2 separate regions of the Homo sapiens genome follow, and region 2 is linked to region 1. The links come from fine-mapping of genetic effects on gene expression. Tissue or cell type: whole blood. Region 1 holds a variant in brackets; the other region holds the start of a gene. All regions are shown on one strand. Distances are from middle to middle. Region 1 overlaps FGD3 (FYVE, RhoGEF and PH domain containing 3). Region 2 holds the start of SUSD3 (sushi domain containing 3).

Region 1 (9,964 bases):
GTGATTCAGATGCATGGGTGGAGCATGGGAATTTAGCCAAGGAGTGCTCCTCAGTGACTTTTCCAGAGCTTTTCCTACCCTGGACACTCCCAGCAGGCCCCTTTGTGCCCCCTCCTCTGGCCCCTGCAGCTGCATCCCATCGGTGGTCCTGTCTCTCTCTGCCTCGGTCTCCCTCCCTCTGCTGGATCCTTTTCCCAGCACAAAGAGGCTCCTGCTGTCTCAGGGCCACCCACACCCACTTCTGCATCTGCTTCTCCTGTTCCATCCTGCCCCACGTACTGAATGTTGCAGAGGACTTGGAGGTCCTTGTTCAAACCTTGGGAAATTCTAGTTTGAACCTAAACCTGCAGGCACTGGCTGCTAAGGGACCATGGCACTCAAACACTGAGCTCATATCGCAGGTCTCAGGAGCCACAGCAGAGGGGAGATTGCTCTTTTCAAGTAGATGGAAGGCACCCTCTTCTGGAGTCCTCCTTTTATGAGCATTTTATTTTTGGAATTTCTCTTTTCTCTATCACTTCTTGTGTGAGGAAGCAGGAATACCGGGCAAACCAAGGCAATGAAAGCCAAGCTAAGCCCCAGCAGGCTGACACGGAGATGCAGTGATGTCACTGAGGGCACCGAGCCACCTCTGCTGGGGAAGTCCAGGTTGGCCATGAGGACGCTCACTCCAAGGAAGATTAATGGAGGCTGCAGCTTCTGATCCTGAGTAGTCACAAAGCCTGAAGCCTGGAGCTGAGCAGGGACCTGGGCATGTATTCTGAGGATGGCTCTTAAAGCAACAGATTCTCTCCTCAGGTCTGATGGGGAAACCAGGTTTGAGTTAAATCCCCCAATTCTAGAGTACAAACTGGGTCCCAAACTGAGAGTTCTTTAAGAGGCACAGATCACATTTCCCACTTGCCTGCCCATCCATCCTCTACCATACATTCATCCATCCATCATCCATCCATCCATCATCCCTTCATCCACCCATCCATCCATCCATCCACCCATTCATTATCCACTCATTCATTCATCCATCCATCCAACCATTCATCTATCCACCCATACTTCCGTATGCCATCCAACTATTCGTCTGTTCATCCATCCATCCATCCATCAATTCTCCAGTCATCCATTTATACTTCCTATATATCCACTTCCATTCATACTTCCATATGCCATTTATCTAACTACCCACCTATCCATCCATCCCCTCATCCATCCATCCACGCATCCATCTACCTATTGATACACCCACCTCTCCAACCACTCATCCATTCATCCATCCTTCTACCCACCCACCCATCCATCATCCATCCTTCCAAGGACTCATCTACTTATTCCCCCCCCCCTGCTGCCCCCCCGCCATGTGGCAAAGGTATGACAAGCAACATCAACCGCTTCAGGCACAGGTTGCTGGTGCCCTTTGGAAAAACACCTCCAAAGCATTCTGTGCTGAGATCCAGTTGCTAACACAGATTCAACTTTAATCTCTTAACCTAAAGATACTTAAATGATCAGTTCCTTCCTCAGGGATACTTTTACATTCAACATTAAGCATTGAATTTTCTCCATTCTCAGGAGAAAGGGCTTTGGAGTGAGGGGAATGGAGATGGTGTGCAGCTGGGGCGCCAGTCGGAGGCATTGCCTCATCACATGGGCCCACCAGGCCTTCAGCACCACTGGAGCGCTGGGGCAAAGGCCAGCAGTAGGAGCTTCCAGCACAGCCACACCCTTCACCCGTCTCCAATACACCTTGCAAGGAATGAGGACTATCATCTCCTTGTTCTCAAGGTCACCCAGCTAGGGGTTCTCTGGTTCCAAATCCAGCACTTTTTCAACCACAAGTAGTGTTTGTTGAACACCAGAGCTGACCAGAGAAAAGTGATTTGATTCTACTTCGGACAGGACAGTTTTGCACTCAAGGGTATCTATATCCATGAGCCAGGATCAGGAAGCCCTTCCGTGCAGGGCTGGTGTGCATGGCTGGTGTGCTGCTGGTGAGGACTCAGCTGCTCTGTCAGAGCAGAGGACAGGGTGGCCTCCTGTCCCTGTCCCCCTCTCCCGGGACTCACCGCCCCACACAGCTTGCAGTGATGCCTCCTCTTGGTGATGGAGTTGAAGGTCTCACCACAGCTCTTACAGCTCTGCTTCTCCTTGTCACGTCTGGTCTTAGAGGATAGTTTTCTGGGCTCGAGCTATAAGGAGGCAAATAGATGCCATCAGCTTCTGAATCATGTGTGCACCCTACCCCACACGGCAGTGGAGTGGCAGCTCTCGTGACTGTAAAAGCCACACAGGCTCAAGGCAAAAAGTGGAACATGCAGAAGGGAATGAAGTGAAGAGCCAAGTCAGCCACGTCTCTCTTCCCTCCCTCACCTCCCAGCGGCTGCCTGTGCCCATGGCACCGAGTAAAGATTTTAAGTGGATCAAGATCTTCATGTTTGGAACAACTTGGCCAATGACTTTATCTGGTGCATCTGAGAAACTATTGAAAGGAGCCACAGCTGGAGGAACACAGCACTTACTAGGGTGGGCAGTGGGCAGCACAGCCATGGCCTGCAGCCCTGGGGACGGGGGCATCCCTGTCTGCAACTGGAGCCGTGTGGCCATGCGCCTGCTCTATACTGGGCACCGCGGGCCACACCCTCCAGGCACGCCACATGGATGAATATAGGTGTGCACCCACATGCCTGAGTGTGCAGACAAGCATGGCAACATTTTAGGGGGAGGCTGGACGCAGTGGCTCATGCCTGTAATCCCAGCACTTTGGGAGGCTGAGGTGGGCAGATCACTTGAGGTCAGGAGTTTGAGACCAGCCTGGCCAACATGGTGAAACTCCACCTCTACTAAAAAATATACAAAAAATAGCCGGGCATGGTAGTGGTAGTGGGTGCCTGTAATCCCAGCTACTCGGGAGGCTGAGGCAGGAGAATTGCTTCAACCCAGGAGGCGGAGGTTGGTTGCAGTGATGCAGTGAACTGAGATCCCGCCATTGCACCCCAGCCTGGGCTATAGAGCGAGATTCTGTCTCAAAAAAAAAAAAAAAAAAAAAAAAAAAAAAAAAAAAAAAAAACTGTGAGGACATGTGAGGAAGCCATGAAGAGCTGAGGCCAGGGTCAGGGGCTGTACCCTCCTCTGTCTCCTGTGCCTGAACTGCCTACAGAGGAGGGTGGTGTGGAGGCTGGAGCAGGTGTAGCCTGGGGCTGCCCAGTCCAGCCTTGGTTTCCCTGTCTGATTATGAACAGTGCCAGGTGGAGAGACCCCAGTCTCCTGCCTCCTGTCAGCCCTGCAACCCTGGATGACTCACCTCTCCTTTCTGAGCCTCAGTTTCCTCACCTGTAAAATGGGATGGGTGACTGGTCCCTGGGTCGTAAGCCTCATCACAGTACATAAAACCCCGACTGCGTTTGGCAAGTTGCTAATTACCGTTTCCTGTTACAATAGCCTGCAACCCCTGGAAAGGCCCCATCATTTGATGAAATAACTTCCTGGGCTTTTGAAGCTTGGTCCACACCCAGCATTTCCTCTCTGGGGAGGAGGTGCCTCCCTTGAGACACTTTGTTATGGGTGCCGAAACCACTGTTAAGAAGACTTTAGGAAAAGGCAAAGATATGTATCGAGTTCCCCAGGATGTCAGAGCTGGAACTGCCACTAGAAATGTTTATCTCAACCTCTCCAGTCAGGGAAACTGAAGCCTGCAGGTGTTTTTCTTTCTTTTTTTTTTTTTTTCCTGTTTAAAAGAAAACTACCTAAAATAAGCTTACCATTACTGTAGCTGAGCAGAATAAAAAGAGGTCTGGGATATGCTTTAAAATATTACAGAAAATTGGGGTGTGTGTGTGTGTGTGTGCGTGTGTGTGTGTGTGTGTGTCGGGGCTAGGGGCTGAGGGGCCATAAGAACAGCACCAGGCTGAGGTTTCTGGAGCTGGGGAGGGATACTCATTGCGGTTATCCCCACTTGTATGGGTCCAAAACTGCCTTAGGAAAATGCTAAACAACATACGCTTAAAAAAAGTTTAACATAAACTCTTCAGGTTTAAGGAGAAGGAGGCCCAGGCGCAGTGGCTCGCACATGTAATTCCAGCACTTTGGGAGGCTGAGGCGGGAGGGTTGCTTGAGGCCAGAAGTTCGAGACCAATCTGGGCGACATAGTGAGACCCCGTCTCAACAAAAATCCAAAAAATTAGCTGATGTGGTGGCACGTGCCTGTAGTCCCAGATATTTGGGGGGCTTAGGTAGGAGGATCGCTTGAGCCTGGGAGGTCAAGGCTACAGTGAGTTGTGATCACACCATTGCACTCCAGCCTGGAGAGCACAGCAAGATCCCAACTCAAAAAAAAAAAAAAAAAAAAAAGAAAGAAAGAAAAAGATGAACTGAACTGGTTGGGGGTGAAGAAGCAAGAAAGGGGTGGCTCAGATTGGGCATAAGCATTGGAGGCTGTGATGGGCTGAACTATGTCCCCCCAAATTCGTATGTTGAAAATATAATTCCCAGTAACTCTGAATGTGACTATATTTGGAGACAGGGCCTTTAAAGAGACATTAAGTTAAAATGAGGTCT[C/T]AGGTTGGGCCCTGATTCAATCTTACTGGTGTCTTTATAAGAAGAGATGAGGACACAGAGACACAGAGGGAAGACCATGTGTGGAAACAAGGAGGAAACTGACATCTCCAAGCCAAGGTGAGGCCTCAGGATAAACCAACCCTACCCACACCTTGATCTCAGACTTCAGCCTCAGGTAGTATTTTGTTCTGGCAGCCCCAACAAACTGACACCAGTGCCTCTGTGCAAATTCTGGCCGGGCACTTCCAGCTGTGTGGCCTGGTTTGTGGTCCCCGTTCATTGGCCCACCTGCAGGTCCCCCCAGCACCTGTCCTGCTTGGCACAGGAGCCCAAGGGCAGGGCTGGCTTGAGGGTGACAGGGACTCTCACTCGCTGTGCTGCAGCCCCCGGCACCTCTGTTGAATGGGCCTTGCTCCAAAGACACAGGTGAGGCGGCCTGGGCTCCCTCTGCAGTTTCTCTCACACCCAAGACCACAGTGGGGGCTCCAAGCACACTAGGTGGGGAATGGGCATCACTGACCTGGCGGCAAAAACCTCTTCTCCAGGTGGGCACCCAGAGAGGCTGGGAAGTGGGAGTGATTAGTGGAAGGGCAGCCCCGATGTGCACCTCAGCCCAGAACTGCCTGCTCTTGACCCCGGAAGGGGGACCCTGGCCACGGCACCCAGGGGCAGCACTGCATGGTAGCTGAGAACAACACAGGGCGTGCCCATGGGGCAGGGGGCAGCAGGGGCTGAAGGAGCAAAGAACAACCATGTGGGAGGACAGGTACCTGCGGGGCTGGGTGCACAGCAAGAGCTTGGCCTCTGAGGACCAGTGGGACCGGGTCCCAGTGAAGGGACAGAGGACAATTCTGGAAGCAGTGAGTGTGGCTCAGGGCTGAGGCAGTGCCGGGAGTCCCACTGGCTTCCTTTATCTGGCAAATCTTCCCAGCTATGGAACTGAGCTGAGCACTTGGGGTGGGTCCTGGCCCTGCACCAGCTCCCATGGAGCTGAGGTCCGCAGCCCGTCGAGGCCAACCCTCCAGCTCCCATCATCAAGGTGTGGCTGAATTTGTAGGCATGACGCAGTAGCTGAGAGGCAAGAGGCCCACCTGAGTAGCGAGGGATGCTCTCTCGGCCATGCACACGCCCCTTTGTGAATGAAGTTACCACGCAGGTTGACCCAAAAAAGGGAGCTCAGGTTTTCGTTGTGGATGTCGGGATATCAGAAAAGCTGGGCCCAAGTCTCTCCAGGAACATGGAGAACTGTGGCTTCCTCAGTATCTGACCGAGTGACTTCACCCCCAAAGCGCCCAAAACACACCAGCGTTGACCCAGAAAGTGGTCTCCACCAAGGGCCAACGGGGCTGCCCCCTCCAGCATTTTTTCTTGAGCAAATTGAGCTGCACATCCAGGAACGGGGGGCACAGCTGAGTTACACAGAATTGGAGCCCAGTAAGAGGCCCTGATGAAACCGAGTCAGTTTCATCAGCTGCTTGAAATGACCCAGCAGGGGACACAGGCTGTGAGGCGCAGGCACTGCCTGGGGCTATTCCAACAGGAGGGTGGCCAGGCTGAGGCCTGATGCCTCTGCTCCAGCCCTGCCCTGGAGCCCCGAGGGTGGACACAGGGCGTGGCCTCGTCCCAGGAGGGGCAGTGCCTGAGAAGAGGCCCTGGCACTGGCCTGTCAAGGGTGCCCTTAGATGCCTCGCTGGCTCCTTGGAGGGGTTCGTGTGTCACCCATGGTGGGTCTGAGGCCCTAAGAGACCTTTTGGATTCTGACATTTTGTGTTTCTGTTAAGAGCAACTCCACGCTTGCCCATCAGGGAAGGCTTTGAATTCTGCAAGGCCCCTTGCAAAACTTCCTGGCTTGGGTGTAGCTTCTCCTAGGAAAGGGGCTTACAGGGACTATACCACTGAAGAAATTGGGCTCAGGAAGTAAGTTGAAGTTTGGTATACTGTAGCAAAAATCACTGTTGTTGATGAGAGAATGAACTTGCTTTTGAGTGCTTTGTAAAACGCACACTGAGCTCACCTCCATCACACCACATTCACCCTGTGCAGCTTGACACAGACACTGAGCTGTCCCAGCTCCTACCCTAGTCTCAACTCTGCTGTTTTTGCTCACAGGAAGACACCAGTGAGGAACACAGGGCCAGGCCAGGCCACATCCACTGTTCGTAGGGAGGCCCTGGGCTGGAGCTGAGGTCTGTGGTTGTTTGGTGGTCTGTCGTGGGCCCAGCTCTGGCTTGGTGTGGGTAAGGGACAGAGACAAGAGACCAGAACTGGAATTGTGACCCTGAGTACCTGGCTCCCCAGGCTGCTGCAGAACCTGAGGCAGCTGAACCCTGGGCCAGGGGAAGTAAAGGGAGTGGGGCAGGCGGTGCTGTCCACCCAGCTGGGCGCACCCATCGAGGCACAGCGGGTCTGCTGGCCACAGCCTGGTCCAGCAGATGCCCGGACACTGACTGAGGCCCTGAGCCCCAATTACCTTCTCGCCTGTGACGGAGGCAGGCGGCCAATAGGGGCATTGCCTGTGTGGCCAGCAGCGCCTGACAGCTTCTCTGATCTCTCTGCCCAGAGCCAAGTGAGGCTCAAGAGGCGGCATTTGCTCAAAGCCCTGCTCCAAGGCCATCTCCAAGCTGTGTCTTCCCACAAGTTAAAACATTTTAAACAATGGCCTTGCAGGTTCTTCCAGCTAGAACATTCTCCTGTCAGGGCACCAACCCGGGGGTTAGACTCCCCAGGACCCTGTCCCACACTCAGACGCCCTGTGTGGATCCCCTCAGCCAGGCCTGGGCTCCTGCTGTTCCTACAACCCGCCCAGGTCCTGCCCACCCAGGGCATCCCTCAGCACGTGGCCTCCACCCACTTCTGCTTCCTTGCCTACCCAAGACACTGAAGGTGCCTCTCCATGTCGTATGGGCTCACACCAAGGACAGACGCATTCACAAACGACAGGTGGCTCTCACTGAGCCTTGATGCCTCTGCGGCAGGACTGTGACCACGGATGTCTCCATAAGCCTGGCCCAGGGCCCGGGGCTGGACATGGAGGGTCATCAGGCAGAGGCCAGCCAAGTTCATACCTTATGTGAGCTGTGTGTGTGGGAGGCAGTGCTCTGTGCCAGGGCATCACCATGGAAACTGTCAGGGATGTCTGCCCTGGCTGTGGGATTCCAGGCAGTGGGGCTGATCAGGCAGTGCCTCATATGCATGGGTGTGGGCTGTCACGTCCCCACTGTGACCCTGCGATTGTGTGTCCACTGTGGGCAGCTCAAGCTTCTGTGGCTGCACTCACACTATGAGTACACATTGCTTTTCATAACTTTCCTAAATGCTCCAGAAAAGGGCCTAAAGAGCTCTGTGAGTCTGGGGCACAGCCAGCCTCACACTTACTGTTTGGCAATACAAAAAGTTGCTGACGGGCGGATTCCCATCATAGGCTGGGCATGGTGGCTCACGCCTGTAATCCCAGCTGAGGCGGGCGGATCACAAGGTCAAGAGATTGAGACCATCCTGGCCAACATGGTGAAACCCCGTCTCTACTAAAAATACAAAAAATTAGCTGGGCATGGTTGCACGTGCCTGTAGTCCCAGCTACTGGGGAGGCTGAGGCAGGAGGATCACTTGAACCTGGGAAGTGGAGGTTGCAGTGAGCTGAGATTGTGCCACCGCACTCCGGCCTGGGCGACAGAGCGACTCCGTCTCAAAAAAAAAAAAAAAAAAAAAAAAAAGTTGCTGATGGGCGGGTTCCTGTCATTGAGACATTTTTATCAGGGTCCCCCGGGGCAGGCTACAGGGCTTCATAGACTTGGACAGAGCAAACAGCAGGTGTCAAGGCCCTGGGGCCTAGCAGGGCAAGGGGAACCCAGGGCATCTCAGGGGAGGGTGGCCAGGAAGCTGGGTGAGGCCAGACACAAGAAGAGACAAGTGAGAGGAGATTCTCTCCTAGGAGGCCAGGGCACCACTTTCCCCCAAGCTGCCCACCCCGTGTCAGACTTCCTCGTTTCAGTGTTAATAAGATGTCCCTGCAGGGTGCCTGTCTGCTCTGCAGAGGCCAGGTGGCTGCGCTTTGTGAATCTGGGGTCTCTCCTCTTGCCCGTTGGGATGTATGTGCAAGCCCCCCACGCCTCCACACTCCGTCGTGCCCCTGAAGCACTACATCTTTCCCGAGGCCTCCTGAGTTTCTTCATGGTTTCCCAGTGCCCGGCCAGCCCAGATCATGATGGGTGGGGCCTGGTAAAGCTCAGGTCATGGGAGGGGGCAGCCAGCGGCCAGCCCACCTGGAAAGACCCGTCTTGGATGGGGCTAGGGCAGCCATCTGGGGCCATGTCATTCCTGGGCCTGCACAGCATGGGGTGAGGCGAGGCACCTGGAGAATCACCCTCCTGCATCTGGGCACAGCAGCCACATCGGGGTGCTCCACGGTGATGTTGCTGTCAGCGTTGGTGAGTGCCAGGCCTGGGCACCAATGATGATGGCTCCAGGTACAGATGCTCTTGGCCCTCATCCTCTTTAACTTCCCAGATTAAACGGAGGGAGGCAGGCCTTATCCCAGTTCCCTATCCCCTGGCAGGCGGGCGCGTGGACACAGTCTGCCTGGCCGGAGCAGCACCCTTGTGGGCTGGCTGCCATAAGGCACACGAGAACACAGACGGGGAGAGGCAGGGAGGCTTAGGCCTCCCTGGCCGCTGCTTGGGGTGAAGAACTAAGCAGTCCTCTGCATTACCGAGCCTCCTAAGGACCTTGCACTGTTAATACATGCTTTATGGGACGATTCACACATGTTAAGAGCATAAATGTTCACTTGGAGCTCAGAAGATTCTCACATGTGTGCCCAGCTGTGTGACCACCTCCAACCAGGTAATGGACATCCCCACACTGACAGGCCTCTGCGTGCCCACCTTACAGAGTCCCCTGCAGTGACCACACAATTCATCAGTGCCTGGACTCAGACATAGCTTCACCTCCGCACACCCAGGCCCCCAGTCACAGTGAGCAGGGCAGACTGGCCCCTCAGCCCTCCGCCTCCAGGAGGCCCTGGTCTGACCCTCCCTCTCCATCTTCCCTATAGGTCATCCTGGTCTGACCCCCTGCTCTGCCTTTCACCCCTGCTGACCGCTGAGCATGGGGCACTTACCCCTGCTGCACCCGAACTGCCTTCGGTGGTCACCACAGGCTCCACAGGGCTGGTGCTCGTGATCTAGAAGGGACACAGAGGCCGAGTGAGAGGAGATTCCAGGGCCACGCAGCCACTGTGCAGCGGGGGGACAGTTCCTGAAGCCCCCAGCACCTCTGTGCATTGAGGGCAGGCTCGGGAGCAGGATTTCCCAGGCCTAGGATTTGCTGTGCCTCTGGGGAAGCTGCTCCCTCCCTGGGCCTGGCCTGAGCTGGAGGCCTCTCCTAGAAGGAGCATCTCCCAGTGAGGTGGGTGGCT
Region 2 (9,964 bases), 31 kb before region 1:
CCTTGATCCCCAAGGTCTGCAGCATACAGGGGACCTTCAACCCTCCAGGCCCCAGTGGGGTCTCCTGTACTCCTTTCCTGAGCCTGGGAGGCCAGGAAACACTTTCTCTGGGCTGGCTCCATTTTCCAGATGAGGAAACTGAGGCCCACAAACCTGCCCAAGGCCCCTGGCTGCATGATGGCAGTGCCAAGAGTAGGAGGCTGGACTCCTGTCCCCTTGGGGTAGCCCTTTCCATAGGATTCACAGCGAACTCACAGCCAGGATTCCGTAGGATTCACAGCGAACTCACAGCCAGGATGGGGCAGGCAGGCAGCACAGTGCCAGGAGCTATGGTCTACAAAGTCTCTACCTGCACCCAACTCCCAGGGACATTCCAAGAAATCACCAAGGCATGAGGATGGAGCTGGTGGATCACCCTTGTCTCTAACCACCGCACAGCCAAGTCCTGCTCACACAGAGACTCCCGGACTCCCAGGGGACCCAGGGCCACCCCTCACTGACCTCCTGAGCCCCTCCCCATGCCTGATGCATGAGAGGCAGATCCCATCTGTCCCCTGTCCCCTCCCCTGCTTCAAATACTCATGAACTCCCAGCTGCCTGCAGATGGCCCTCCTGTGCCTCACCCCTGCAGAGGACCCCACACCCCAGCTGTCTTTGAGGATGTCTGTTCCCTAAAGCTGGAGGCAGAGGCCTTGCCTCTCTGGATCCGTCCTGCCCTCCAGCCCCATCCTACCCACCTGCTGTTCCCCAGCCCATGGTTGTGGCTGCCCTTGGTCTGCCAGCCTAGTGCTGGGGCATTTCTTACCTGGCACCCTTTAGATCCCTTTGCATGTAAATCTTAAAGAAGAGGGAAAAACAACAGAAAACGGATTTGATGCAAACAAGATACAAAATAAAAACACACGAGGCCCTGCCTGGCCCTCCCACGGCTCAGGGGCAGGTGGAGAGGACCAATGGGTACCTCAGGGCCACACCTGTGTGATGCCTGAGCGGCCCTCAGCCCACATGCCGCGCCTGCGCCTCTGCCTGGCCACCTGCTGCAGCTGCGCTTCCTCCCTCCCTGGCCTTATGTACGGAGGGGGCCAAGCCTGACCGGGTGGATTCTCATCCTCCCAGCCTGTGAGGCCAGCCGGGCGTCTGAGAACAATCCGTACTTGTTAATCTTTTATCTGGAACCTTGGACCTCAGGTCGGCCCCTCCATCCTCCCTCCTGGGATTCGCCACACAGCCCCTATAACCTGACCTCGCCTGCTGTGGGATTAAGTAACTATGTTCCCTTTTATGCTGGCTGAGGCTGTGGGAGAGAGTGACAGAGGCAGGCTGCTGAACCCAGTCTCACCTAGACTCGATCCCCACCTGCCAGTGAGTCCCTGTGTGACCTCAATCTGGGTCTCAGTTCCCCCAAATGTGAAACAGGAACCTTCAGGAGGAATTTCTCAGAGTTTAAAGGGGGTGACTTTTGCACACAGAGGTGCTTTGAGAACAGGACCCCCAAGACCCTGGCAGTGGGGACAGGCCTGGCCCCAACACTACATGTGGGTGTCCCACAGCCCTGGCTGTGTGTCTTCAGGTAAGTCACTTGCCCTCTCTGAGCCCATCTCCACATGGAGGGTGAGCACAGGCTTCAGAGCCACTTCTGCCTTCCATCTCCAGGCTGAGCAGCAGGGTGGCCTCAGGATGTGGAAAGCACACAATCCTCCATAAAAGAGCTGGGCTAATTCCAAATGAGGAACATGTACTCCCACATCCCTGGTGGAAAACCGAGGGTCCGGGAACCTATGCCTTCTACCAGCAGCTCTTTCGATGCCAATGGGTGGCAGGAGGCCATAGCCAGGCATCACAGGGTGTGTCTGCCTTGCTTTGATTTACACATGCATTCACGGGGTCTCAGTTTCTCCTCTGTAAAATGGACACAGTCCAGTTCTGGGGCAGGAGTTCAGGGGTGAAGCCAAGAAGGCACCAGCAGAGCATGCCTCCTGCTACCCCCTCTCCAGGCCCTTCCTCCAAGGCCCTTCCACGGATGCCAGGGGGGTTACCTACAGCCACTGGAACCCTGCTTTCCTGGACAATCTCCCAGATCAGGGAGTGCTGGGGCTGACCTGGGAGCAGGGCCAGGGGCCAGTCATACAACAAACATGATAAACTCCTACTCTGAGCTAGTCTCCCCCGCGCCCTGCCCTTCTCCCAGGGCGCTCATGGGAGATGAGGGAAGACCACTTCCTGCCTCTCAGGAAGATCAGTCTGTCCACACTACTGTGCTCTTCATATCTACTCTAGGAAAACCAGTGGTAATGGCCCCATTTTAAAGATGGTGGGAAAAACACACATCCCCGTGCTATGTTTTTGGTTTTTGTTTTGTTTTGAGACAGAATCTCGCTCTGTTGCCCAGGGTGGAGTGCAGTGAGGTGATCACAGCTCACTGTAGCCTCGAACTCTGGACGAAAGCAATCCTTCCACCTTTCAGCCTCCCGAATAGCTGGGACTACAGGCGCATGCCACCATGCTCAGCTAATTTTTTTTTTGCATTTTTTGTAGATACGGGGTCTTGCTATGTTACCCAGGTTGGTTTCGAGCTCCTGGACTCAAGCAATCCGCCCACCTCAGCCTCCCAAAGTGTGGGATTAGAGGCATGAGCCACCACTCCTGGTCAGTGGTGTTTTAGTGTCAAATCCTCTCCAAAGGCTCCCAACCCCCCAGCCTCTAACTTCACAGCACATTTCACAGAGCAAGAAACTGAGGTCACATGGCAGGGGAGTGATGGAGTCCAGATGATGGCATCATCCCTGCACCAGAACAAGTACCCTCCCTGGGCTCCACTGGGCCTGTCCACAAGCTTGGGGGCAGGTATACAGTGGGGAAACTGGGGCACATGGGGAAACTGAGGCACAGAGGTACAGCGACTCACCCCAGGTCACAGGGGGGATCCTAACCCAAAACTCCAACAAGGGGGCCAGTGCCTGGGAAGTGGTCATGGTGGTCAGAGGCAGAGCCAGGGCCAGGCAGGATGAACAAGAGCACAGGGTGCCAGACTAAGCTCCATTCCCAGCACAAATTCCAAGGCAAACAGCCTTTTGTATGCAAATATGCCAGAGCCTCCAGATACTCCCTGGCCTTGGGCTGACCTTGGGCAAGTCAAGGCTATCCAAAGGGCACTGGCACCCACGCCCCCAGGCTGTTGTGCCAGTAGAAGGGGCTCCTCAGGTAGTACCAGGCCCTGGGCAGGCCTTGCTCAAACACAGGAGCAAAAGTGCTCATCACCCCAACACCAAATTAGGGACTCTGGACATTAGGCTGCCAGAGTCAAACTAAATAAACCAAATCCACCAGCGCCAGGAACAAGTCTCAGCGCCCACTTTGCTGAGCTGCGGACCTCTGCTCGGTGAATTAGCTCCCTGAGCCGCAGTTTCCCCAACTGTGAGAGGAAGCCATTCTCCTGCCACCTTCCTGCCAGTTCCCTGGGGCTGCAGGCTGACAGTGTGACCTGGTCCAGCCCACCCCACTCCGGGCCTCAGCTTCCTCCTGCGCAGAGCCTTAGCCCCGCAACGCCTGAGACGCCCAGAACCCTCAGGCCTAACGTTCGTGGGCAGTGGCCGCGGAAGTAAGCTTTTGGGATATCTGAGACCCAGAGTTCCGGTTTGGTTCCGTTTCTAAAAGGGTTAGACTTTAGAATCATTCAAGGAGCAAGGCCAGCATTCGAACCCCGGAGCCTTGGGCACGGGAGCAGACAACTCTTTAAGCACATTCTTGAATTCAAACACTTAAAAGTAAAATAAAAAGCAGCTTCTCTTCCTTCCAAAGGCCTCTGAGCCTCCTCCGAGACAGCCGAGGCGATCCCAAGCCTGGCTACAGGGTGACCTCGGACAGCCACTCCCCTCTCGCAGGCTCAGTTTCTCCATCTGTAAAGTGGAGCTGCGCTGGTCACCAAGGAATCGTGAAGATGACACCTCCCTCAGGCGCAGAGAGGGCTCCCGGCTCCCCCCTCCCGCCCCCGCGCCACCCGCCCGCCAGGTGAGGCCGGTTTCGACTTCCCCGGGAGGGGCGCGGAGGGGCCCGGAGCCTGCGGCGTGGAGAGGCTTGGCCGGCCGCGCTGTCCGCAGACGCCCGGGACCAAGGCGCTGCGGCCACTCGGGAACGGGCGCGCGGGCTGCTGCGTGCAGCCGCCTGGTTTCGAACTGCTCGCTGCCAGGCTTCGGCTCCGCTAGGGCGCCTGCTGGGCCGGCGGAGGGTCGAGGAGGTTCGTCCTCGGGGCAGATCGTTGCTGTGGCCCCCACCCACGGCTGTGCGGCCCCGCGACCCCCTCCCCTCGGCTTTCCCGTCTGTGAAATGGGCGCAGAGCCCCGCACGCGGCCACTCGGCCCCAGCCCTCACCTGTGCGGTTCCCTGGGGCAGGCGTGGTGACCCCGGCCCGCCCCCGGGGCCTCGCCTTGCCACGGAGGGTGGCGGCCGCCCAGCGCATCCTGCGCGCTCCGAGGCGCTTGGCGGGGTCTGCCAGGGGAGTGAGCCCGGCTTGTGGGGGCGGGGCCTGGGCCTGGGCCTGGGTGAGGGGCGGGGAGGCCCCGCCCTCCACGCCCGCCCAGGGGCGGTTCCATGCAACTTACAGACCACGCCCACACGTTGGACTGGGGCCGAGGTCCGGCCGGGGGCTGTGGGCGGGGGCCCTTGGGGAGACCAAATACCCAGCGGGCCAAGGCAGCCGGCTGAGCGGAAAGTGTTGCTACTCCGGGGCGTTGCACGCGTGGCTACCTCTGCCCAACACCCTTCCCCCATCCCTTCCTGTTCTCACCTTCACTCCTAGTGTGGTTTTTCCATGTGCTTCTGTGTTTTTATTTTTTGAGCAGGATTTTGCCTTCTCAGGGTGCCGGATTCGGCCGGTACCAAAGGGCAAACAGCAAAACGCCTCCCCGGCCCGCCCCTCCCGTAACCCACTCACCCCCAGAGTCCTGTGTGGACCCAGCCTTCTTTCCCTGTCTCTCACTGGGCCAGGCCGTCTGAGGCACACTGAGGTCTGGGTGCCCTTGTTGTCTTCGGTTCTCACTGAGGGGCCCCCGGCTGGGGGAAACAGGATGGAAAGCCCTGGGGTCTGTCTGCAGGGCCCACCACACCTGGAGGCCTCCCTTCTCCTGGCTTCCCCTTCCCACCCAGCTCCACTTGCAGCAGGCCCAGAGCTGTGATCCGGGCTCTTTCTCTCCCTCTGACCCCACCCAACCCAGGCTTAGCCCCCTGCCCAGGCAGCCACCAAAGGGTTGGGTGTGGTGTCAGGCCTCAGACATCCTGGATCTTGGGCTGCTTGTGGGAGACCACCTGAGCCATGCCTATTCCTGTGGAGCTGGCAAAGGCAATCCTGGCAGAGGGAACAGCAGGTGCAAAGGCCCTGGTTTGGCAATGTGTGGCAGCAGAAGCCCAGTGCGGCTGGCTTAGGCATGCCTCCAGGAGCGCAGAAGGTGGCCCAGGTGGGCCAGGCTGGCTCTAGAGTGCCTGGCAGGTGACCGTGAAGAGTGTGGATGTTCAGGTGGACCATGAAGCAGGGTTCCAGCAGGGCAGCCCCTCCCCGTCTCTGCTTTCCGAGCCCTCCAAAGCTGAGGTTCAGTGTGAAACGTGAGGGGCCCTCCCCCTTTCGCCATCAGGGTTGGCGTCACCCCTGATATGTTCTTCCCACTTGGACTTGTGGGTCACACACGATGGCTTACTTCAATCTCCTTTATTCAAAATCAAGCATGTGTATTCTTTCTGCCATGTCGGGAAGGGCAGGGCCATCAGCAGTGCCCACTCCAGACCACACTCTGGGACCCCAGAATGTCTTGCCAAGTGGCCCCTAGCCCACCTCTCAGGCCTGTGTGGTCCCTTCCCTGGTTTTGCCCACCATGCACCACCAGGCAGAAGGCCACTGCCTGTAGGTGCATGGACAGGGCTGGGAGGGAGGTCTGGGGCAGCCCTCCAATAGCTGGGTGGAGCTAGGTGGGGATGGAAAACACCAGGCTGCCTGCAGCTCCCTAAGCCACCACGCTGTGACCCAGGCCTTCAGGAGCCTTCAAATGCTAAACACCTGGCCATTTAGGAAGTGTGTTTCCTAGAGCTGTGTAACATAGTACCCCAGACTGGGTGCCTGAGAACAACAGAAATTTATTGTCTTATGGTTCAGGAGGCCAGAAGTCTGAGATCAGGGTGTCGGCAGGCCTGCAGTCCCTCCAAAAACTCCAGGAGAACAGCCTTCCTTGTATCATCCAGCTTCTGGCAGTTCCTTGGCCGGTGGCAACTTAACTCCTGTCTACACATGGTGCTCTCCCTGTGTCTCTCTGTGTTCAAATCTCTCTTCTAAGGACACCAGTCATATTAGATTAGAGCCCACCGTAATGTCCTCATCTTAACTTAAGACCCTATAAAGAGTCTGTAAAGACCGGCCAGGCTCAGTGGCTCACGCCTGTAATCCCAGCACATTGGGAGGCAGAGGCAGGTGGATCATAAGGTCAGGAGTTTGCGACCAGCCTGGCCAACATGGTGAAACCCTGTCTCTACTAAAAATACAAAAATTAGCTGGGCATGGTGGCGCGTGCCTGTAGTCCCAGTTACTTGGGAAGCTGAGGCAGGAGAATCACTTGAACCCGGGAGGCGGAGGTTGTGGTGAGCTGAGATTGTGCCACTGCACTCCAGCCTGGGCAACAGAGCAAGACACCATCTCAAGAAAAAAAAAAAAAAAAAGAAGAGTCTGTAAAGACCTTGTCTCCAAATAAGGTCATATTTGGAGGTACTGAGGGTTAGGACTTAAACATATAGATTTTGGGGGACACAGTTCAGCCCCTGACAGGTGGGATCAAGGAGGAAAGAGCATGTTTTTCTGAGCAGTCTGTCGCTTGGTTGGGTTGTGGACATTCAGGCTTGTGGCGCTGGGCCTCCATTTGTACTGTTAGGGGACCTGGAGGTGGCCTAAGGACCTCTGTCATGTCGTTTCCACAGGGAACTGTATGCCTTGCTGTGGCTCAGAACACCCATTTGCTGCCAAAAGGCCATCTTCAGGAGCTATGGGAGGGATCTGAGGCTGGTTCTGGAGGTGGGCCTGTCACCTATTTGAACACTGATCAGGGCCATCTTGTCCACCTTTTCCCAGGCCCTTGGAATGGTTTGCTCCTAGAAAGCCCAGCTATTCTAGCCATGCACGTGGGCGAAACTGAGGCATGTGAAAAGAACGGCACTGGCCCACTAGGGACAACCGCCTGGGGTGCCCCCTTCCATGGTGAGAACCATGGCTCTCTGACAGGCTTCCCTGATCCCTGGGGCAGGGGTGGGCACCCTTGCACTGAGTCTTCGTGTTCTCATCTGAGGGGTGGACATTGTCCTGCCACCCTCTCAAGGCAAGTGAGAGACTGTGATGTGCTCAGGATGGAGTGGTGGCCTCTAAGCTGGACTGTGAAGGCCCGTCAGCTTTTGAGCTTGGCCCACCCGCTCAGCTGTCCTAGTTGCCTGGTTTCCCAGACTCTCCAAGTCTAGGCACAAACTGGGAGCAGTGCTTAGGCTCTGCCTGCTTGGGTGTGTCTCCTTGCCTTCCTCACCCTCCTTCTCCATGGAGCCCTCCCTGATGGCACTCCCTGTCAGAGCCATTTCGTGCTGCCTGTCCTTAAGGCCTGCTCAGCCTGTGTCACGTCTCTGAAATGAAGAGGACATGTGGCCAGGTGTGGAGCTATGGACATGTGGCCGGATATGGCCGAGAGGATCACTTGAGGTCAGACACACCTGTAATCCCAGCTACTTGGGAGGCCGAGGCACGAGAATTGCTTGAACCTAGGAGGCGGAGGTTGCAGTGATCTGAGATTGCACCACTGCACTCCAGCCTGGGTGACAAAGGGAAACTGTGTCTCAAAAAAAAAAAAAAAAAAAAAAAAAACGCAAAACATATGGGCTTCCCTGCTGGAGGAGGCAGGGGAGGAGGCTAGGAGGAACGGATGGGCTGCTGGCTGCTGGTGAGGCAGGCCGGGAGAAGGAAGCAGAGTCAGGCACAGCCTGAGGAACTGACCAAAGCCACAGCCTCTTCCCAGCTCCATTTGCAACTGGGAGCACACAGTGCACTGTCAGTGGACACTTGTTGGATGGAACCTGGGAGGCAGGGGAGGCCTGCCAGCCCTGGGGCTCAGTGTTCCACTCTGTAACATGGGGGTCTTGTGCGCTGCCAGAGGTTTCCAGAGGAAGGTGAGGGTCTGGCTTGGGAGTTTCCTCTTTCCTCAGACCTTAGCTGAGGTGTTGCCACCCCCAGGAAGCCTTCCTCAACCCTTGATTTGCCTGACTCAGCACCCATGGGCCATGGTGGCCTGGGAGGGGACCCATGCAGAAGTCTGGTGGTGGCAGAGTTCTTGGCTTGGTGAGTTTTTCTAAAATTAGATAATAATTGTGGAAATCTAAAACAGTTTGTTTTGCCTTTTTTTTTTTTTTTTGACAAAGTCTTGCTCTGTCACCCAGGCTGGATTGCAGTGGCATGAGTTCAGCTCACTGCAACCTCCACCTCCTGGGTACATGCAATTCTCCTGCCTCAGACTTCCAAGTAGCTGGGATTACAGGCATGCACCACCACGCCCAGTTAATTTTTGTATTTTTAGTAGAAACAGGGTTTCACCATGTTGGTCAGAGTGGTCTTGAGCTCCTGACCTCAGGTGATGCACCCTCCCTGGCCTCTCAAAGTGCTGGGATTACAAGTGTGAGCCACTGCGCCCAGCCTGTTTTGCTTTATTCTTGATTTTAGTTTTTACTCAATAGAAAAATGAGATTTTTGTTCTGAAAACCTCTCACAATAGACCACGTCCAGAAAGTTCTTTTGCAAAAGGTAAGAGTCAGGGAAGCATTGGTGGCCTCATGGGTGTCCTCTCTTTTTAAAAACTGTATTACCTTTTAAAAACTAAAAGCAAAAAAAGAAAAAAAAAAAGTAACCTGACCTTGAAGCTCTAGCAGGCCAGATGTTTGCAGAGAAAACAATTTTCCCAAAAATGTTTTCTGCTGGGCCATCTGGAGCCCTCAACACCCACCACTTATCCTCCTAAAGCAAGGCAAGAGCCCTGTCCCCACTGTGCAGAGCGACAAAGGCCCCTCCCCGGGGGTACTCCCCTGCTGGGGCCTGAGCTGTGACCACCAGACTGTCCTACCTGGCTGCAGCCTGCACAAGCAGATCAGTCAGCCTGGGTGACATGACATCGAGCTGCCGCCCTCAGGTTCAGAAATGGTGATGCAGAGACACAAAGCAAGGCGCCCAGAGGGCAGAAGGAATGACAGATTCATGGAACAGCTACTACCAAACACCTACTGCATGCCAGGCCAGTTTAGAAGCTGGGATACAGCTGGGCCTAGGAGGGACAAACTCTGGCCAGGGGCTGCTCCCCCCATGCTCATCCTGCACACCAAGGCCTTTACCTGGCCACCACTGGGCTGGCAGATAGCAGGTCATCTTTTTTCCCACCCCTCAACTCTTTTTGTACTTTCTGAATTTTCCACAATGAGCATGTATCTATTCTCTGATAAGAAACAAGGATTTTAAATGCTTTGTAAATGTAAACTATTGCAAAATTTCCCACGGCCATTCTGATGTTCACTTGTCGGGAAAGATGTGGACTGACCTGGGTCCTCGGCTGCTAGGATTACACGGCATTACCATGCTCTAAGGAGTTACAACCAAGCATAGGATTTCAGGTGGGGGGTTGTGCTTTCATTGGCCTGGAGCTGTTCCCAGTTAAGCTGGCAGGTCAGGGGGTGCACAGGTGGGTCAAGGGCAGCCCGAGGCTTAATGCTGAAGAGCCAGTTAAGCTTCTTTGATGCCCGGCACCTGCGTAGCGAGCAGCGTGGGCCGCCAAGTGCCTGGTCACTGGAGAAGGGTGAGAGCCTCGCCTCCTCCCTCCCCACAGGCTTCCTGCCAGCTCCCACCCTGCCCCCGAAAGAGCAGTGGCTGCTCTGCCCTCACCAGCCCCCAGGCTCAGCGTGTTTTCATCCTGCC

The links.
Region 2: SUSD3 starts here. The variant in region 1 is fine-mapped to the expression of SUSD3 in whole blood (TOPMed, PIP above 0.99).

The regions. Positions count from the first base shown.
Region 1 is chr9:93,022,093-93,032,056 of GRCh38, reverse strand. FGD3 (FYVE, RhoGEF and PH domain containing 3) reads right to left here. Exons shown (of 18, transcript NM_001083536.2): 14 at 9,668-9,730; 15 at 2,061-2,183. Among named protein-coding and RNA genes, the nearest start is that of SUSD3, 32 kb to the left of the region's middle. RefSeq lists enhancers at 2,031-2,530, 2,531-3,032, 6,139-6,930, 6,931-7,723, 9,287-9,964. The variant C/T (reference allele first, on the strand shown) is at 4,549.
Region 2 is chr9:93,053,235-93,063,198 of GRCh38, reverse strand. SUSD3 (sushi domain containing 3) reads right to left here and starts at 4,498. Exons shown (of 5, transcript NM_145006.4): 1 at 4,369-4,498. The coding sequence starts at 4,456. RefSeq lists enhancers at 366-933, 2,324-2,373, 2,442-3,422, 3,423-4,403 and silencers at 3,914-4,323, 4,334-4,783.